Regions from separate parts of the Homo sapiens genome. Here region 2 is linked to region 1. A link means that fine-mapping ties the variant in region 1 to the expression of a gene that starts in the linked region. Tissue or cell type: cerebellum. Region 1 holds a variant in brackets; the other region holds the start of a gene. All regions are shown on one strand. Distances are between the middles of the regions.

The links. PIP is the estimated chance that this variant, and not a neighbour inherited with it, causes the effect.
Region 2: TMC2 starts here. The variant in region 1 is fine-mapped to the expression of TMC2 in cerebellum (GTEx, PIP 0.98).

The regions. Positions count from the first base shown.
Region 1 is chr20:2,612,143-2,614,824 of GRCh38, reverse strand. TMC2 (transmembrane channel like 2) reads right to left here. Exons shown (of 20, transcript NM_080751.3): 13 at 2,485-2,634; 14 at 1,503-1,631. It overlaps LOC105372505 (a long non-coding RNA gene), which reads left to right. Exons shown (of 5, transcript XR_007067502.1): 5 at 693-779. Among named protein-coding and RNA genes, the nearest start is that of NOP56, 39 kb to the left of the region's middle. The variant T/C (reference allele first, on the strand shown) is at 1,217.
Region 2 is chr20:2,535,368-2,538,049 of GRCh38, reverse strand. It overlaps TMC2 (transmembrane channel like 2), which reads right to left and starts at 1,477. Exons shown (of 20, transcript NM_080751.3): 1 at 1,395-1,477; 2 at 734-781. The coding sequence starts at 1,428. The region is part of intron 2 of LOC105372504 (a long non-coding RNA gene); the gene reads left to right.

The DNA.
Region 1 (2,682 bases):
TATATAATTTATATATATTTTAATATAATCCTTTCCCCCCAGTGTGTTTGAAAGTCTCCCTTTATCATAAACTAAAGGCCCATGTAGATAGTATCTATTTCTGGACTTTCTATTCTGTTCCATTGACATGTTGGTCTATTTTCTAGTACCAGTTTTAGTTATTATAGCTTTATCATATGTTTTAGTATTATGGTAAGTCTAGTTCCTTTTATTCATCTTTTTATTTTTTCTTTATATACTTTTTGAGACAGGGCCTCACTATGTCGCCTAGGCAGGAATGCAGTGGTGTGATCAAGGGATCAAGGGATCCTCCTGCCTTAGCCTCCTGAGTAGCTGGGATTACAGGCATGCACCAGCACACCCAGCTAATTTTTTATTTTTTGTAGAGATGGGGTCTTGCTAAATTGCCCAGGCTGATCTTGAACTCCTGGACTCAAGCAATTCTCCTAATTTGGCCTCCCAAAGTGCTAGGATTACAGGTGTGAGCCACCATACCTGGCCTTATTCTTCTTTTTAAATATTTTTTCTGGATATTCTCACATGCTTATTTTTCAAATGAACTTTAGTATTATTTGGAAATCGTGGTGATCTTACAAACAAATTTAAGAACAATGACCTCTTAGTAATATTGTGTCTTTCTATCAAAGATGTCATCCTCTTTGAGCACAAAGTTCTTTCATCTTCGTTCTCAGACAAGATTATGAAGCTTTCCTGGCTGCCGAGGAGCTCAGCAGACTTGTTTAAAACTGAGACTGGTGACTGAACGAAAAAAAATGTGACAGAAACCTGTACTGGGGCCCTTACCTGGGCCAGGCCAGGATGAGGGATACATAGGTCAACATCCTACGGAGCCTTTCACCAGGAGCTCAGGTAAGAGGTAGGTACCTTACATGCACACCAGTGACTGCAGGCTGGGCCAGTGAGGTGTTGTGGAAGAGACATGTACAGCACAGGTGCCTGAGCCAGAGATTCTGCCAGAGCATAGAAGGACACTACAGAGAGGAAATGACACACATTTACCAGGTAGGTGGGGAAGAGGGCTATAAGGGAATACAAGTCAAAGGAGGTTTCTCAAAGCATCATCCAGAAGACAGGACCAATGGTTATTGTGTTCTTGGTGTGTTCCAGGACTTCCTGAAATATTCGCCTCCACTGTCAGATTTCAGCCCCCATAATGAGAGTTGAGGCTGCTCAGATGCAATTCCCTATCAACCAT[T/C]GGCTCAGTACTGGAGTGTGTGGTCCACTTTCCCCTAGGCCAAATGCCTCCATTTCCTAGAATAGAAGGTCACATTGTTCATTACACTGGGAAAAAGCAGTTTCCCTTATGAAGGCAAATAGGACCCTTAAAGGAAATACAAATTAAACACTTTACTACTCTACAGAGCAGAGACCGTCATTAAGCTTCCAAAGAAATGAAATGCCCAAGAATGCATCTGGCTATAAGTATCAAAGAAGATAGTTGAAATTCCTTTGTGCGGAATGTCCATGAAGTGGTGACCTACAAATCCAGCCTCCAAGTCCCAGCACCAGCAGTAGTTCATGAACCGCACAAAACAAGCCCGTAGGAAGTCCCCCAGCAGGATGGTGATGTACGTTACCAGCATGTCAGACACCGTCAGCCTCATGAATTCCTGCAGAGGAACACAGGAAGAGGGGGTGGTTGGAGACCTTGCCCACTTCTCCCACCCTCCCTGAGAGTTTGTTGAGAGTCTAATAAACTCTCCCCCACCCACCTGACTTTGTCTCTGTGACCCTCTGATCCTTTGTGTGTGAAGAGAGGCGACTCCTGGCTCTGGAAAATGCTTAATTTAGGTCCCAGCTCCACATTACCAATTGTATGGCTTTGGAATAATCTCTGAACCTCTTGAAGTTGATATTGATATCAATCTCAAAAGGCTATTGTGAAACTTAGTAATTATGTATGCAAATGCAAATTGCCTGTTAAATTGACTATGCCCAATGCATCGTAGTCATCATCACTAGGACCCGAAGGCCTTGCTTCCCCACTTATTCTGAAGTGCCAGCTGCCCCCACTAAGACCAAATGTGACCGTCAGTCACTGGAGACAATGCCTAGCTTTTTTCATCTTCTGCTAGTCAGATTTTTCTTTTTCTTTTTCTTTTTTTTGATATATAGAGAAAATAAAACAGGTTTTGCACAGAGGCACATAGAAGAAGGACCAAAAACTGAAGGACAAAGCTTTCTCTGCATTTGTAGAATAGACATAATTTACTATGTTTTTGGAAAAATTGAAAATATCTACCAGACACCAATCACAACCTTTGAGACACCAAAGAGATTTGGAGTTCCCAGGGGTCACAGGATCTGCTTTGGTCATTTTATTTCCTCCTAGATGATTATGAAATGTTTGCTGGATGAACAGCTGGTAAGTTTTCAGGGTTATTCCTCAAATGGAAACATCAAGGAGGGAATAACAAAGAACTGAGAACAGGGGTCACCTTTTTAGAGAGTGTAACTACTCACAATGCCCACAGCTGTCTCCCAGCAAGAACCCCGGGGCACATCTGCAGGGTGCAGGGGTGGTCGGGGGACACTCTCGTTCCAACCAGAAGAGTTGTAATAGTTAAACAGAGTCCAGTGAGTGATGTTCTTTATTGTCTCTTCATTAGCAAGCTAGAACAGAAGATGGAGGTGTGGGGTAGGAAGGAGCTAGGGATGGTC
Region 2 (2,682 bases), 77 kb after region 1:
AGAATGGGGGAGGAAGGAGATCTCTTCCAACCCCCCAGAACCCCATCACTCCCCAAGATTCTGGTTTCTTGCCTACTAGTGTGGGGCGCAGGACCCAGCCCTGCCTGGGACGTGAAGGGGGAGAAAACAGCATCGCATCCATAATATTTTGTGACATGAAGATGCCCAGCCTGTGAGTGTGGCTTCTGCCCCTCTCCCCTGAACCCTCAGTCTCAACCAAGGGTTTTCTCTCCCGCCTATGGCTTCCTTGGGCTCTCCCACTTCTCCTGGAGCAAGTTGGCTCCCTCACCGGCTCACGGGAGAGCTGTGGTCACATTCCCAGTGGGAAGGTGATGGAGCACCCATTATGCCTACTACTTTTTGGAGGTTAAGAGTGTTCCTCCTAGAGTCCGGGGGCCTGGATGTGAATCTGGCCACACCACCCGCCAGAAGCCTGCACCGAGCTTCCCTGCCCTCTGTCTGGTGAATGTTCACTGCTTCCCAAGGCTCAGCTCAGAGTGTCACTAACCCTGGGAGTCTCCCCTGACACCGAGGGCTGAGCAGCACCTTCTCTGAGTGGTACTCTGCCCCCTCCCATGTTAAACACCTTGCCTCCCAGGAAGGCTCCATGCAGGGTGTTGAATGAGAGGGAAGGAGATGAAGGAGAATGTTGGATGGGTGGCTGGACTGTTGGGCTAAGCAGAGGGCACCCAGGCACTGCAGGCTCCCCAGAGACCCCACCACCCCATCTCACCTGTGTGTGGAGAGCCGCTCTTCACCCGCCCTTTCACTCCGCCTCGTGCTGTAAGAGACAGGATTGCTGACAAATGGCTGGCCTCTGGTGAGTCCCCCTCCCTGCAGACCCCCGGTCACTGTGGGACCCCTCAGCTGATTTGTGGCTGCCTCAAACTGGGACCCAGCTCCAATGATTTTACTCAGCAAATTATAGAGTCCCCTGCCTGTCACATTTGTCTGATACTGTCAGTCATGAGGTCAGAACATCCCCCACCCCCTGCCCTGCACAGAGACAGAGACAGATAGAAATCTGCTGAGGGGCTTGCTCGGAACAGGCAACCCTAACCGAGACAATAGGTGGCTGAGACGCCCCAGCAGGCTCTGAGGAGCATGCATCGGCCGTGACAGTCTCCAGTGCTGGCCTGAACACAGGTGCTGTGCACAGGTTGTCTTGAATCCTTCCAGTAGCCCTGCAAGGAGGTGATGACTACCCCCATCTCATGCGTGAGGATCAGAGAGGTTGAATAACCAGCCGAGGTCGCTCAGCGCACAGGGGACAGGCCCTGGACTCAAACCCAGCTCCTCCCTATGCCTCTGAACACCATATGTGCTTCCCCCATCCCCTGCTGCTGCCCAGGAACCCTGTGGGCGGGCCCCGCAGGATCAGGACGTGGACTCACCTTCCTCTTTCAGGCCCTTTACCTGGTGGCTCATGGTCAGCAGCACTGCTGGGGTCCTGCACAGGCTCACGCAGCGTGCTCCTGTATGCACGCCTTCAGCCTGGGCTGCTTTCCTGCCCTCATGGTGGCTGGCCTCCCTTCCTAGACCTGACAGCAGGCGGGGCTTCTTGGTTTGAGATTGAATGTGGAGGTGGGTGAAGTTTGGGGGAGAGAGACGGGTGAAGGAAGGCGACGAGTTCCCGGCCCATCAATCCGGCCACACACTCCTCTTCTCAGGTTTCCCTGCAAAGAGGCAGCATGGCCTCATGTTTCAGGCATCAGTTATACATGAGGGGCCCTGGAGGGGCCAGGAGCTGCAGGCTTATCTCCTGGCAATGATGCCGCTGGCACTCTAGCCAGAGGAGGTGTGAGGAGCATCCCAGGCCCTCTCCCACTATCTTGAGTCCCTGATTGGGACAAAGCACCAGGGAAATTCTAGAATGTTTGTTTAAGTTATTACTTGGGCTTCTGTTTAAAATGCAGATTCTGGCATGTGGTGGTTCACACCTGTAATCTCAGCACTTAGGAAGGCAGAGGCAGGAGGATTGCTTGAGCCCAAGAGCTCAAGACCAGCCTGTGCAACGTAGTGAGACCCCATCTCCACAAAAAGAAAAATAATAATAATAAATTTTTAAAAATAAAATGCATACTCCCAGGAGTGGCACTGGGCGTTGGAATCAGTCAGTCTGTGCCAGGCCCTGGGAGCCTGCACTGTGGATCCTGCTGCAGGCGTCCTGAGCCCACACAGATGAATGTTCCCGCTCAGCCCCCGCCCCCTCCCTCAGCAGCTTTTCCTCCCTGGCTTCAGGGAGGCACAGATTTGGCTGCTTTGAAAACCATCACTAAAGTGTCAGAGGGACCCTCTGGAAGGCAGTCATAAGGTCTCAGAGTGTGGAGTTCTTAATCTGGAGTCCCTGGAACCCCCAGAGCTGTGGATGGAATTCTGTGGGTTTGTGAATAGTGATGGAGAAAATACTACACTTTCACTTTTCCTAGCCTTAACTGCGATTTAGCATTTCCCTCAATCATGAATGTAAGCAAAGATGTGATTTTTGTCTCAGCAAAAGTCACAGTTATTTTTTTTCCCAATTAAACCACTGGGGATGTCTCAAAATATCTTACATGTTATCACAACTTCAAAATTATGATAGTTAGAGACCTGCCATGAAATCTTGTTATTTAATTAGGAAGCATATATTGTCATTATATGAAAGATATTTAAAGTGATTTTGATGCCTATTTCAGGATC